Regions from separate parts of the Homo sapiens genome. Here all the other regions are linked to region 1. The links come from fine-mapping of genetic effects on gene expression. A gene starts in region 1. Each other region holds a variant in brackets. All regions are shown on one strand. Distances are from middle to middle. Region 1 holds the start of LEP (leptin). Region 2 has its middle 22 kb from the start of LEP. Region 3 overlaps LOC124901744 (a long non-coding RNA gene).

What was found.
Region 2: its variant is fine-mapped to the expression of LEP in whole blood (TOPMed, PIP above 0.99).
Region 3: its variant is fine-mapped to the expression of LEP in whole blood (TOPMed, PIP above 0.99).

The regions. Positions count from the first base shown.
Region 1 is chr7:128,239,123-128,244,346 of GRCh38, forward strand. LEP (leptin) reads left to right here and starts at 2,156. Exons shown (of 3, transcript NM_000230.3): 1 at 2,156-2,184. RefSeq lists promoters at 1-2,184, 1,938-2,184, cis regulatory regions at 205-610, 2,102-2,110 and enhancers at 205-610, 210-269, 247-282.
Region 2 is chr7:128,260,958-128,266,181 of GRCh38, forward strand. No RefSeq gene overlaps it. Among named protein-coding and RNA genes, the nearest start is that of LEP, 22 kb to the left of the region's middle. RefSeq lists an enhancer at 1,340-1,840. The variant A/G (reference allele first, on the strand shown) is at 2,824.
Region 3 is chr7:128,214,688-128,219,911 of GRCh38, forward strand. All of the region lies in intron 1 of LOC124901744 (a long non-coding RNA gene), which reads left to right. Among named protein-coding and RNA genes, the nearest start is that of MIR129-1, 9.4 kb to the left of the region's middle. The variant A/G (reference allele first, on the strand shown) is at 2,586.

The DNA of each region.
Region 1 (5,224 bases):
GGGAGCCATATTTTTCTTCTTGCAGAGAGCCTATAAATAGACCTGCAAGTAGGAGAGATATTGCTAATTTCTTTTGCTAGCATGGAATATTAATATTAACACCCTGGGAAAGGAATGCATTCCTGGGGGGAGGTCTATAAATGGCCGCTCTGGGAATGTCTATCCTACGCAATGGAGATAAGGACTGAGATACGCCCTGGTCTCCTGCAGTACCCTCAGGCTTACTAGGGTGGTGAAAAACTCCGCCCTGGTAAATTTGTGGTCAGACCAGTTTTCTGCTCTCGAACACTGTTTTCTGTTGTTTAAGATGTTTATCAAGACAATACGTGCACCGCTGAACACAGACCCTTATCAGTAGTTCTCCTTTTTGCCCTTTGAAGCATGTGATCTACTCCCTGTTTTACACCCCCTCACCTTTTGAAACCCTTAATAAAAAACTTGCTGGTTTGAGGCTCAGGTGGGCATCACAGTACTACCGATATGTGATGTCACCCCCGGCGGCCCAGCTGTAAAATTCCTCTCTTTGTACTCTCTCTCTTTATTTCTCAGCCAGCTGACACTTATGGAAAATAGAAAGAACCTACGTTGAAATATTGGGGGCAGGTTCCCCCAATATCTGGTGCCCAACGTGGGATACTGAGATTACAAGCATGAGCCACTGCATCTGGCCTCTTCTTTTGATTTTTTTTTTTCAAACTTTTACAAATGTAGAAACCATTCTTAGCTTTTGGGCATTACCAAACCCGGCAGTGGCAGGCTCGGTTCACCAACGTCATTTGCAGTTCCCCGCTTTATGTTATGGGTTTTGTTTTGTTTTGTTTTTTTTATTGAGACAGAGTTTCACTCTTGTTGCCCAGGCTGTAGTGCAATGGTCTGATCTTGGCTCACTGCAACCTCCACTTCCCAGGTTCAAGCCATTCTCCTGCCTCAGCCTCTCAAGTAGCTGGGATTACAGACACTCACCACCACACCTGGCTAATTTTGTATTTTTAGTAGAGATGAGGTTTCACCATGTTGGCCAGGCTGGTCTCGAAATCCTGACCTCAGGTGATCCACCCACCTTGGCCTCCCAAAGTGCTGGGATTACAGGCTTGAGCTACCACGCCTGGCTGGGTTGGTTCTCAATGGAGTGGTTTGTTTTTGGAGCTGCTCTGCGCAGTGGGGACCAGAATAGGCCTGGGTTCCTAGCCCATTGCTATTCCTTACCAGCTGTGGATTCTAAGGAAAGTCATTTAACCTCGCTGGACCTTAGATTCCTCATCCCTGAAGCCCAAGGGTAAAACAAAACAAAACAAAACAAAACAAACCAACCCATCATGTAAAGCGGGGAACTACAAACGATACAGGTGAAACATGCCTACCACACCACTCACAGGCTATGATGACAAAAACGTGGCTACATCTGGGACCACCCCCCAACCCCCACTTTGTACGTAGGAAATACGGAGTTGAGGATGGAGACCCACAGTATGTCCAGAGTGTCCCCAAAGGCCACAGTGCCCGCCTGGAGCCCTCCAGAGAGCGTGCACTCCCTGGGGTGCCAGCCAGAGACAACTTGCCCTGAGGCTTGGAACTCGATTCTCCGCGTGCCAGAGAAGGGGTGGGACTTCAGAACCCCCAACCCCGCAATCTGGGTCGGGGAGCCTGGCGCACTGCGGGCCGCTCCCTCTAACCCTGGGCTTCCCTGGCGTCCAGGGCCGTCGGGGCCGAGTCCCGATTCGCTCCCACCCCGAAGCCGCGCCAGGACCAACGAGGGCGCAGCCGTATGCCCCAGCCCGCTCCGCGGAGCCCCTCACAGCCACCCCCGCCCCGACCGCGCCCCGCGCGGCTCGAAGCACCTTCCCAAGGGGCTGGTCCTTGCGCCATAGTCGCGCCGGAGCCTCTGGAGGGACATCAAGGATTTCTCGCTCCTACCAGCCACCCCCAAATTTTTGGGAGGTACCCAAGGGTGCGCGCGTGGCTCCTGGCGCGCCGAGGCCCTCCCTCGAGGCCCCGCGAGGTGCACACTGCGGGCCCAGGGCTAGCAGCCGCCCGGCACGTCGCTACCCTGAGGGGCGGGGCGGGAGCTGGCGCTAGAAATGCGCCGGGGCCTGCGGGGCAGTTGCGCAAGTTGTGATCGGGCCGCTATAAGAGGGGCGGGCAGGCATGGAGCCCCGTAGGAATCGCAGCGCCAGCGGTTGCAAGGTAAGGCCCCGGCGCGCTCCTTCCTCCTTCTCTGCTGGTCTTTCTTGGCAGGCCACAGGGCCCCACACAACTCTGGATCCCGGGGAAACTGAGTCAGGAGGGATGCAGGGCGGATGGCTTAGTTCTGGACTATGATAGCTTTGTACCGAGTTCTAGCCAGATAGAAGGTTACCGGGAGCTGGGGAGCGTTGGATTTGCTGCTGGGCTGTGCCGGTGCCCAGAAGGCAGGACCTTGCAGAACCAGCCAGGTCCCTGGGAGACTGTCAGACCCACCAACCTGGTGGCATTCGCAGAGCTGAGATGCATTGGAAATTGCCTTGGGCACATCCCCAAAGATCAGGATGTCCCACCCCAGTCTGAAGGAGATAAAGTTGGGGGTAGGAGAGACGCAGATGCAAGTGATCAGTCTCAGTCCCAGACATTGCCTTGCTCTGCGGGTAGGAATTCAGGATTCATTTTCCAGGGAAGTTCCTGACCTCTGAATGAGAGGGGCTGTGTAAGGCCAATGCCTGGGAGGAAGGCAAGGATGAGTAGAGGTGGGGGGAAACAAGTGTCAGGAAGACTCAAAATCTTCCAGAGAAATTGTGCAGGGTCTTACCAGATCTGTCCTCAAAGCCATGCAAATTGCCTTCTTTGCAATGCATACAATGAGGTGTCTCTGGGGGTCAGAACTGGTTATTAGGGAACTTCTAGCCAGGACTGCTAAATACGCGCTGTTGGCCCACCAGGCTCACCTATAGCCTTCCTTCAGTCTGGGCTTGGTTTGGATTTCACTGTGGGTGCCATCGCCTTTACACTCCTGTTTCTATAGTTTAAAGATAGTGGTGCTTTGGGAAAGTGACTCCTTAAATACAGTTAGGTCCAAGTGAGACAAGTGGCCTGGCTGTCATTTCAGAATAGCAGCTTCCAAGAGGTGATTAATTTCTGTTGGAAGGGTGATCTTTGGGGAGGTGGGTGAAGAGCAGAGACTTGGTGGTACCGTTCCAGGAGCACAGGCTCTCTTCCTTTGCAGTGCAGAATGACCTCTGGCAGCCGGAGTTGTGTTTGTTCTGTAGGATTCTGAGGTGGGCCATGGGCAGCTGGAACTGGGGAATTTTGCCAATCTCTTTCATATTAGGATTGTCTGCAGAACCAGATATGGAGGCTTCTAGCAACGTGAGTGCTCCTGTTCTAATGCCCTTAGAAACAAGAAGGCCACACTGATCATTTCTCTCACTTAGGCAGGGAGACAAGGCAAGAGAGAAACAGTGGATGCTTTTAGGTTCTTTCCCTTCCCAAGCAGTTGTGGACATTGGGCTGAGGGGAACATTTCCACATTGGCTAAAGGAGCGTCCTCCTCATATTTTGTACATTTTATACCCAAAATAACTCTTCTTGGTATTTGGGGAAATATTTTCCTCCCCGTCCATTCCAGGAAATGGCTCCAAGTGCCAAGGACAGAGCCAGGGAAGTTGCAATGAATTCCTGCCCGTCAGCCCCAGGCAGATGCCTTGCACGTCTGAGTGGCCCATGCAGAGCGTGGAGGTGGCCGCCACGGAACCTGGGTCAATGTCCCACCCCCGCTTAGATGCCACCAGGGGCGTGGGAGCCAAGGAGAGAAGAGGGGCTCCAGGAAGGTAGAGTCCTTGTGTCTTGTGCATCTGTGAACAGCACTGGTATGATTTAAAGGAAAATTGAGCCAAATTTTCCGGCAGTCAGTTACCCCATCCCCACCGGGGTAGGAGTCTGGCAGCCGCAGCTCCATTCTGGCCAGTCGGCAGAGAGCCTTGAAATTCTTCTTTGTCCACACAGTTGTCTCAGAGAAACAGAGAGGTTGTTTCTGCTTAAAAACAACACACTTGGTGTCTGGGCCCACAGACTCCTTTGCACTTATTCCACGTGTGACAGCCAATGTGCCTCGTTGCTTAGCAGACAGCATGTTACCGTCTTTCCTGCTCAGTTTGTTAGCTCTATGGAATGGAATTTATAATCAATGCCCATACCAACATTTCACTAATATCATAGGAGATTTAGTCTCCATCTGGGTGTACATTACATTTGCTCTGGGGTGCTCCAGGCTGGGGGGTTGCCAAGGAAGAGAAGAGAAACCGCAGAGAAGACGGGAGGGCAGGGCAGGGGTCTCTGAGAAGGGGAGGGGTCCCAGAGTGCAGGAGCAGGAGCCAGGCTCATGAAAGGGGCCACGGGCGGGAGTATCCAGGGACGGCAGTCAAGATGGAGCACAGCTTAGGAAGCTGAAGGGAATCCTGGCCCACCTGGGTGCTAGAGGGCACATAGGAAGTGCAGGAAGCAGACCAAGGTCCCCAAGAGAGGGAGACCTGGACGCTGAAGCATTTTCTGTCTTTATTAAGACAACTCCGTAAGAATTCCTGCTGGGCCAAAGTGAATTCTAGGATGCGACTTTAAGATGGGAGCAAGCGAACCATTGAGGAGGCAGGTTACCCTAGTTAGCCAATGCAGATCGAGAATGGGAAATCTTTCATTTATTCATGCAACAGATATTTAACGAAGCCCTGCCGTGTTCCAGGCCTGTGATAGATGCTGGAACAGGTACAGAGATACAGGTGTCATTAATTGATCAGGGCAACCTCTCCTTCTGAGTCTTGCTGGAGCTTCAGATGCCCCTCACACAGAGCTCGAGGGAGCCTCAACAATTGATCAGAAGTCAGGCACCATGGCTCACGCATATAATCCCAGCACTTTGGGAGGCCAAGGCAGGTGGATCACTGGAGCCCAGGAGTTCCAGATCAGCTGGGGCAACATGGCAAAACCCCATCTCTATTAAAAAAAAAAAAAGTAACTGGATGTGATGGTACACACCTGTAGTCCCAGCTACTTGGGAGGCTGAGAGGTGGGAGAATTGCTTGAGCCCGGGAAGTCGGGGGTCCAGTGAGCCTTGATCACACCACTGCACTCCAGCCTGAGTGACAGAGCAAGACCCTGACACACACACACACACACACACACACACACACACAGATTAGAGCTGAAACAGGAGTAGAAACCTATCTGTATCTCTGATGAGATCAGATCTTTCTGATGA
Region 2 (5,224 bases), 22 kb after region 1:
AACCTGACTTGCAATGCCCAGGTGACATATATATACATGTAGAAATACAAAGACAGAGATTGATAGATATTTCTTTACTTGCCCCATCTGTGCCCCAAACACATACACACAGAGATTTCCAGCCGTTTTCTGCTTGCCCACCCATCCCCACCTCTCCCCAGAGGGACATCCATTAGGAAATGCACTTGCAGGCCATGTCTCTATCCTAATGTTGTTTTTTGTTTGTTCTTATTGTGCTTATTTGTTTGGTTTAGTGATGGAGTCTCACTCTGTCACCCAGACTGGAGTGCAGTGGTGCCATTATAGCTCACTGCAGCCTCAAACTCCTGGGCTCAAGCGATCCTCCCACCTCAGACTCCTGAATGGATGGAACTACAGGAACATGCCACCATGCCTGGCTAAGTTTTTTTTTTTTTTAGAGATGGGGTCTTGCTATGTTGCCCAGGCTGGTCTCAAACCCTTGGCCTTAAGTGATCCTCCCATTTCACCCTCCCAAAGTGCTGGGAAGTGTCCTAAAGTTGAGGAGCTTACAGCCTGGGTTGACTGTACACACACACACACACACACACACACACACACATATGCACACACACACAGAACTGGCTCCAGGGCTCACCCACAGGTCTGCCCACCTTCCCCACCAGCACTGCCGGAAGCCCCCTCCATTAGTCTCCTGTCCTGCTCCTTCTCTGAGATGAAGAGCTCTTTAAATCATGGTCATTGTGGCTGGGTGCGGTGGCTCACAAATGTAATCCCAGCACTTTGGGAGGGCAAGGTGGGTGGATGACCTGAGGTCAGGAGTTCGAGACCAGCCTGGCCAAATGGCAAAACCCCGTCTCTACTAAAAATACAAAAATTAGCCAAGAGTGGTGGCACATACCTGTAATCCAAGCTACTTGGGAGGCTGAGGTGGGAGAATCACTTGAACCTGGGAGGCAGAGGCTATAGTGAGCCAAGATCTCGCCACTGCACTCCAGCCTGGGTGACACAGGGAGACTCCGTCTCAACAACAACAACAAAAAAAAATCATAGTCATTTTTTTCCTGTTCCTCATCCCATCCACTCGTCTTCATTTTCATATATTTTACTTGTACATTTGTTTATTAATATCTACCCCATAAGAATGTAGGCTCTGCCAGGCGCAGTGGCTCACTCCTATAATCCCAACACTTTGGGAGGCTGAGGCACGTGGATCACCTGAGGTCAGGAGTTTAGAACCAGCATGGCCAACATGTATCTACTAAAAATACAAAAAAATTAGCCGGGCATGATGGTGGGCGCCTGTAATCCCAGCTGCTCGGGAGGATGAGGCAGGAGAATCGCTTGAACCTGGGAGGCAGAGGTTGCCGTGAGCCGAGATTGCGCCATTGCACTCCAGCCTGGGCAACAAGAGCGAAACTCCATCTCAAAAAAAAAAAGAATGTAGGCTCCCAGCAGGCAGGGATTGTCTTTTGGTCTGTTTTGTTTCCCGCTAGATCCCCAGCATCTAGGCTAGATCCTTACACAGAGTAGGTACAACCTGTTGGCTGAATGGGTCTCTAACCTCAAGAGCTGATGCCCCATGTCCCCTTTGCATTTGGGTACAAAGAAGTGGCATGAGGGGAAGTGGAATGCTCAGCAGTCTGTCCACTTAGAGGATTCCAAGCCAGATATGGTTGCCAAAGTCCTGTCATGTGGACAAGACTGGAGGGAGATTGGGGATCAACAGGTAGAATGTGGCAGAAGGCAAGCTTTGGCTTAGTCGTACCATCAGAACTACTCTCCGATAGGAGGGCCAGCTGGGGCAGGCTGTGGGCAGATTGCTGTGGCAATGGCGCCCAGGTGTGACCCCTGCCTTCTGGTGTCCGCCCTCGATGTAGGCTCCCCACAACACTGACACTGGGCTTGGCCACGTGACCTGCTTGCCACAGTGGGACAACAGCAAACAAGACACAAGCAAAGGTTGGAAAAGTGCTTGCCCATGGGGGCTTGTCCTCTCTCGCTGCAGGGAAATCTTCAGCCACTATGCGAAGGAGCCCAGACTAGCCTCCAAGAGGATAAGCGACCCTGTGGAGAGAGGCCCCAGCCCCAGCCATCCCAGCTGTATTAGTTGGTCTTTTTTTTTTTCCTATATTTTCTGATGCTGTGACATCTTGGAACCTCACTGACACTGCAGGGACCGATCCTCCCAGGGTTAGCTAATTCCCAGAGATAGCAAACAGCTCAAGGGGTGCATACCTTTCAAATGCAAACCAACCAATCTAGAGCCCACACCCCAACCACCTCCTCTATTGGGCTGTCATACTCAGGGCCACTATCCCCTACCCTAATCTTCCCAGGGCCAGGTACCAGACAACTAGAGCCAGCCCCCATGCTCCAGAGCCCACTGAAATTACTCAAACTAGCCAATCCTAAACTTGCTTACCCTCACTTGCCTTGCTTTTCCTATGCAGTTGAACCAGTATTCAAACCATGTCAACGGGAATCATTCTCCATCTCAGCTTTGTTTCCTTTGGCATTGGCTTTATTCTTAGACGGTGGCAAAAGTGATCATCAAAAACTCCAGTCCTATACCTTCCAGGTTGGCAACTCCCCAGGAAAAAGAGCTCTCCTTCCTAAATGTTCCGGCAAAAGCCCCAGAGCTGACTCCCATTGGTCTGGCTTGAATCACATGTCTATTGCTGAGCCAATCACTGGGACCAGGAAAATGCAGTACTCTGATTGGTTAGATTTGAGTCGAACCAAGGAAGGGGTCAATTGCACTTGGAATGAGAATGGGGATAGGGTAGTTTCCCAAAGGAAAAGAGGGTGTGTTACCAAAAAGCAGGAGAAATGGGTCTTGGG[A/G]AGGAAGAAACAACAGATTTCCTCCAGGAATGCTCTGAGCCTTTCTTTCCTGGCCTGTCTGATTCCTGACAGCTTTCTGGAACCTTGTCTCAGTCTGGATTTCTTTCTGAGAGAAGGAAGAGACTCACTCCCTTTGACCCTTTACTTTTGTATTGAGAACCAAAACCAGCTCTGACTGGCTCTTAACTTCAACCACACGGCATCAAATAAAAAATAATGTTTGACCCCGGACTTAGAAAAGGGTGGAGTGATTGTCCTTGGCTCTGACAACTGCTTCTGATAAGTATGAAGAACATTTTTGTTACTGGTTATAGTGGATTGGGGCTTGATATTAAGTCATCCAAATTGTTATTGCTCTCATTGGGGTTATTTTACTGGTCTTTCTGCTTTGTCGGGGGGTCATTCTTTTCCACTGGGAAATTTGTTCTTTTTTTCTTCCCTTTTAATGGAGGTCGTGTTGTTGACACCTTATGTTGTAGGGATGGCTGTTCTGATTGCTTTACAAAAAGCGTAATGATCAGAAGGATTCCTTACAGCAGAACAGCACCTTGCCATCTATAAAGCACTTTCACACACGTTATTACATTTGATCTCTACAATAAGCAGCATTGAGGAGAACAAATAGTATTATATCCACTTTCTATAGATATGGAAATAGACCCAGAGAGGTTAAGTGACTGGTTACAGGTCACAGAGCTATGTTGCCTTAGGTAGCAGGAAAATATTGGCAAGGAATAAGCAGGCATTTATTCAAGGCTTGATTTATTTAACAAGATAAGGCTTTATTGTTACAAAGTTCATCAGGGCTCAACTCCCCAGCTCCCTTCTTATTTTGGTACACAAACTACATAGCTCCAAAGGGACACACACACACATGCACGCACACACACACACACCCTGGGCCACCAATAGCCAAGGCTAGAGCCCAGCCAAGCATGTCAGCATGCAGGCTCACCCACAAGCAGGTCTGGGAGATGCAGGCCTGGCTCATGGGCAGGTGCCCAGGAGCCCACAGCTTGGTTCAGTCCTCCCGCAGAGCTCCTCACCCAACCCAGCACCTTCTCTCCTCAAAGGGGGTGGTGGCTGGGGCTATGGGTAGGGCTGGGGCTTTGTCAGGAGGGAGGAGGCAAGTCTGGGAGGGTCTGGGGAGCTGGGGAAATTTCCTGAATGGAAACTCCAGGCTGATATGCTGGGGACATTCCTTCCAGGGACTCTCCTCTCCCTCCACATCCTTGCCTTTTCTCTCTGTGCCTGAACCCTGGACAGAAAATGAGTAGACTTTATGGGTCACGTGGAAACCAAGGGGTAGGGCTCACCCACAAGCAGGTCACAAGACAAAAGCAGAGAGCAAGGTCACCAGAGTAGGTGCTATCTCCACTGTCCCTCCTGTCATGGGAAGAAGGGCCTCCGGGAAGCCGGGAAGCCCCCCACAACACCTCTTGCTGTGGTCCTAGGAACCTCCAGGCAATCCTCTCTGTTCCAACACTCTGCCTGTGTCCTAACAAACAAGGTAAGTGGCAACTCCTGCAGAAGTGGGCCCTGACCCTGACCCTGTCATCTCACCTCTGGGACTCATTGTGGAAGTCCTGGGCATTCAGCATGACAGACTGGCCAGTGGGGAAGTGACCCAGCCCCAGAGCTCTCTGGGAAACCTCTGCATTGGCCCCTGACCCCACCCTGGGGTTTTCATAGATCCAAGCACCTTCCCAGCATCCAGGTGAAAGGCCCAGCGCTTATTAAACCCTGCCCAACCTGGCCTGGATGCTTCCTGGATGTGCACTGCTGGGAGACTTCTATTCTGGAAGATCCTGTCACAAAGAAGAATAGGAAATGCCAGAAACTCATCTATCTGATAGGATTTGTTTTTCCCCATAGGAGAAAAACCCAATCACACCATCTCCCACTTGGAACAACTGCAATTACCCACTCCCCGTAAGTGGAAGAACACCAGGGCTAATCAAATGACACCACTCCGGGAAGCCAATGGCTCCCAGTACCAATCTTTTTGAAAAGCCCATATGGAAAGCTACAAATTCTATTTGTCTTGTCTGGGGGGGAAATGAGTTTTAAATATGTTGAATCAAAAATGATATATACCAGACACTAGTGATCCAGAACAAACGCCTTGGGAGAAAAACTACTCTGAAAACGTTCAGTATTCAGGTTGCCAAAGAACTGGGAATTTAGGCTGAAATATACAAGCACAGAACATTCACACTGGACAGCCACATGTCCCTTACCAGGCCCGGATGGAATTGGTCCTCAGACAGAGCCCTGGTTCCTTCCTGAGCACTGGCCTCAGCAGCTTCCCCCAGGGACACTCCCTGCCACCTCCTGGTGAGCTTCAATGTCTTCCTGCTGGGCCAGGCTGCCGAGGCCTGAAGATCTCGGGTCCACCCTA
Region 3 (5,224 bases), 24 kb before region 1:
GAAGAAAGGAAGAAAAAAAGAAAGAAAGAAAGAAAAAAGAAAGAAGGAAGGAAGGAAGAGAGAGAGAGAAAGAAAGAAAAAACCTTACAGACACAGTTGAAGTCTTTGTGCCCCTTTTCCTTCCTCCAACTGTCCTGAAGTTGGTAGGTATTCTCACACTGGTGCTCATACTTTACCATATATGTATTACTCGTAAATTACACCTAGCATTGCTTTGAGTGCTTCTTAATTTATGTAAGTGATGTCACACTAAACCCACCATTCTGGAACCTACTTTTTTTTCAGCTAAATTGTGTTTCCAAGATCGGTCCATGTTGATGCATGATACATTCATTTTTACTGCTGAATAACATGAAACTGTACAAAGATACCACAATCCATCCACTCACCTACTAATAGACATTTGTTTCCAGTTTTTCACCATCACAAATGATTCTGCAGTGGACATCCTTGAACATGCTTCTGTAGAGTAGACCCCTACAAGTGGTGTTGCTGGGCCGCAGGGAAGATGCGTTCCAGTTATTAGACATGCTGTCAATTTACTCGCTAGCTTGGCTGAGCCAGTTCACGCTTGTGCCAGCAGCAGACAAAACAACTGAAAATGTTATTTATTCAGTGTGCTCTTGGATTGGGCTCTCTTCTGAATGCAAAACCAATTATAAGGATTTTCTCTAGTTCGTTCCCGACCTTTGTTCTCCAATTCTACTTTCCCTTAAAGTCTTAAATTCTTTAGCCATAAATTCTTCTACAACTAGGGTTTTCCAGAATCTGACCTAGTGGCCAAGAAGAAATGACTGGTATGTGTGTTACAGGATGGAGTCGGGTATGTGTGTGTATGTGTGTGTGTGTCTGTGTTTGTAGCTTTGTACCAAAGCCAACAAGAAAGAACTGGAAGGACAAGACTTTCCATAGCATCTTTTAAATGATGCATCAAACCCAGGAAAGAGGGGTAACCAGTGTGACCCAGAATCCACTCTCAAGCTATAGGTCCTTTCCTCCCCCTCTTATTTGTTGGGGGTCAAGGGGGAGTTGTCCCAGGACATTACTCTGTGGCTCCATCTTCCCTGCTCCCCAAACCCACCAGACTCCAGACACTTCTCTAAGCTGTGTAAACCTAGGGGTGAGGGAAAGAGGTACTCTGTGCAGAGGAGGGGCAGCCCCATGTGTTCATCTGGGGTAAAGGGCTGACTTTTGGCCCCAGGCCTAAGAGCTCTCTGTCCATGCCAAAGATTCCTCCTGCATCTGGGCCTGTGGGGTTGGGAGAGCTGCCAAAATCCTAGACTGGGCAGTGACAGTGGAGAGCCTATATCTTGGCCACTGAGCCGATTCCTCAGCCCCAGGACCATACAGAAGTTGTCTGGAATTCCTTCCCTCACAGGCCCTGAAGCAGGAGCCTCCAAGGCCTCTGAAGTTGACTTGAGAAAAGGGGATGGGGGGATAAGGAGGGGGATAGGGATTCAAGGGACCACCACAAAGTTGCCTAGCTCAAACCAAAGACATTTCAAGAGGCAGGAACCTGAAGTGAATGAAAAAGCACAATTCACAGTTAAGCGAGAGTAGGGAGGGCCCTGACCCAAAGACTATTTTTGTGTTTTTTGTTTGTTTTTTAGGGTTTTTTTGAGATAGGGTCTCACTCTGTCACCCAGGCTGGAGTGCAGTGGTGCAATCACAGCTCACTGCAGCCTCCACTTCCGAGGCTCAAGCAATCCTCCTGCCTCAGCCTCCCCATAGCAGGGACCACAGGCACACACCACCACACCCGGCTAATTTTTAAATTTTTTTGTAGAGAAGGGATCTTGCTATGTTGCCCAGGCTGGTTCAAACTCCTGGGCTCAAGCAATCCTCCTGCCTTGGCCTCCCAAAGTGCTGGGATTACAGGAGTGAGCCACTACTCCTTTCTTTCTTTCCAACAGAAAGACTATTTTTGGATGGGATTTCTCCCCCAGCAAACACTTGAAGTGTGACCTACAGGAGTTGTTTGTTTGGAGGGGGGCATTTGTCCTTTATCAAAAAGATGAAACCTGGTTGGGTGTGAGTTTCTTGCCTGTAATCCCAGCACTCTGGGAGGCTGAGGCAGGAGGACTGCTTGAGGCCAGGAGTTTAAGACCAGCCTGGGCAACATAGGGAGACCCTGTATCAACAACAACAAAAAATTAAAAATTAGCCAAGCATGGTGGTGCACACCTGTAGTCCCAGCTACTCAGGAGGCTGAAGTGGGAGGATCTCTTGAGCCCAGGAGAACGAGGCTGCAGTGAGCCATGATCACACCACTGCACTTCAGCCTGGGCAAGAGAGTGAGACCGTATCCCAAAAAGGAAAACGATAAAGCATGAACATCTTGGCGTCCTTGTTCCACAGACTCCTTTTGGCCCAGAACAGTCTGCCCTTTGGGCAGCAGGTGGCTTGCTTCAGCCTGGAGGCCAGGAGGCCTACTCAGGCGCCCAGGGCGATTCACCAAGGGACCTCACCTCTGAGCCCCGCCTACCACCCAATGAGGACGCGCGGACATGACGTCACTGCATCCTGTTGCCCAGCCCAGACCAGGAGAATGGGACAAGCTGGAGAAAAGAGCCAGTGGAAGTGCC[A/G]GATGCCAAGAGAGAAGTTGGGGGAAAAAATGGTGGAGGGCAAATGAGTCAGCAGCAAGTTTAAGCAATGAACCATTGCATCACGGGGTGTTTCTCAAATTCTTGTCTACTTTTAGAAAAAGTACGCAATGACATTCAGTGGGCATCTTGATTCTGAAATAGCTAAAGAAAATGTTAAAAATGCAGTGGGTGAAGATGTGCCCACATTAACCTCTTTTCTAAAACAACAGTTGACAATTGTGCTACATGTCCTTAAGCAAATCTTTTAGCCTGCCTGTTCCTTAGTTTCCTCATCTGTGACATGAGGGGAATGTATGAAAAATATCTCTGGAGATTCCTTCCAGTCTAACATTCTGTGGTTTGATGATTGATACTATGCTCACATTCTTAATACTCAGGCTGTGTCTACACAGTGCCAAGACAACTAGCTAATTCAGTGAGTATGGACAAAATGTTCTTCCAATCAATTCTTTGGCACGCTGTAGACAAATTGGCACTTCTTTTCATTTTACAACTGGTTGCTCCGGCTTCTTCTTGACCAGTGCTTCTTCAATGGTGGTATCCTGACATGCTGTATGCCTGGAGCACTTAGGAGGTGTGTCCTAGGCAGTTGGCTATGGATAATGAACTGTTGAGGTTCTCAAATCGTTGATGACTTTTTTTTAATCAATTAGAACAGATTCAATATGGTCCTATAGTAATGCCCCTGCTGCTTAGTTGCAATCCGATATGCCTCCCTGAAAGGAAGAAGTGGTGGAATTACAGCTGCCGGACAGAGACTGCCTGTAGCCCTGACCCTGTTGGATGCCCATGGGAGGGTGTCATGTGTTGTGCATGTGAATGTCATTTATCATCTGCAACACAGCACTTGAGAATGACTGATGGAAACCCCTGAGACATGGTCGGACATCAAGGCACTGGAGACTCAGGCCCTGGAGAAATCTGAGCCAGCATCCTATGACGCAGGTGCAAACCAGGAAGAGTACAGAATGGAGGGCCTGTTCATTATGCCTGTCTCTTGGTCCAAAATGAATGATTTCACCATAATCTGTTCATAGCTGGGGAAGGAAAGGGGGCGTGAAATAGCGTTTATTAATCATGTAGGGGCCAAGCCCAGTGCCAGACACTCGTGGCAGGTTTTAGTGTTGCTCGCCATGTACTTTTTATTCTCAGCTGTCCAGGGGGATTACACTTCCTCCCTCTTGTGGTTTGGAAGAGTAATGTAAAATTCTGGCCAATGGGTTGTGGGTAGAAGTGACATGTACCAACTGAATGCCAGGGCATTTCGCTGATAGTTTTAGACCCTCCAGAGCTCCCTCTCCCTCTAGCATGGGAACTGGCAACAGTCTGGTGGCTCTTCCATCACCAGCTGGAATCCTGGAATACTAGGAAACCGAGCTCCGAGAAGAGACATGAGGCGTGTGTATCATGCATTGCACGTGAGGATGGAGTAAAACTTTGTTGTTGTAAGCCACCAAGATTTTCAGGCTGCCTATAACTGCAGCACAACCTAATTTTGTGCTGTCTGATGCCATGTTTTATATAACATGGTAGTGTAGTAGAAAAATGTGAGCCTTAGAGTTTAAAATGCTGGGCACGATGTCTCACGCCTGTAATCCCAGAATTTTGGGAGGCCAAGGTGGGAGGATGGTTTGAGCCTGGGAGTTCGAGACCAGCCTGGGCAACATAGTGAGACTCCATTTTATTTTACTTTTTAAAAAAATAAAATAACAATTTAAAAAATAGAGATTAAAAGACATGAGCTAAAACCTAAACACTCACTGACTGTGAGCAAATCTGTTAGCTTCTTTGAGTCTCAGTTTCTTCATCTATAAAATGGCACGATGTTTTTATTAGGTTCGGAAATAATATTTAAAAATATCTAGCACAGGATTTGGCACATAGTAGATGCTCAGTTACAATGATTATAATTTCATGTATTCCTCAAAATAATACTATGAGTAAAGAGAGGGTATGGGTGTAAGAGAAAGGATAGTCATTACTGATGTTTCAAATGCCGTCATACACTATGGAGAACACTGACCAGGGACCCCAAGGGTAGGGGAAGGTTTGAAGTCATCTGTGTCCACCCTCCCCTGAACTCAGAGAAGTCCTAGAAGGGAGAGAAGGCCTGAAGACACCATTTACAATTTAGCCTTTCCACTGCCAGAGGAAAAGCAGATTCTACTTATGGTAGTGACTATTGACACCTTCAGCATATAAAATAAGAATATAGCAGTGGAGTGAGTTAGTGTCCCTGTTAGTTTCACTGAAGCTTGTTATCCTAGCAAAGCGCCAGCCAAGGTCTTTCCCAAAGGCGCAATGAACTAAACTCTTCTCTGAAATCAGCTTATTAGTATTATCATGACCACTTCAGCTAGCTCACCCAGGACCTGGGAATGAGCTGGAGAGTGAACTACAGAGGAAGGGAGAGAAAGAGAATATCCTCAAGGCAGCAGGGGATTGAGGGGTCCTTTGTCTCCTCCTGCTTCCCAGCAAGTCTTGCCTGATGGAGGAACAAGAGCAGTCAGAGGACGGGGTGGGGAAATTCCAATTCTGTGTGTCCTTCCTTCACCATGCCAGCTGCTCTGGAAACCTCCAGTTCCAGGTCAGATGCCTGCTGCAGTTCCCACTTATAT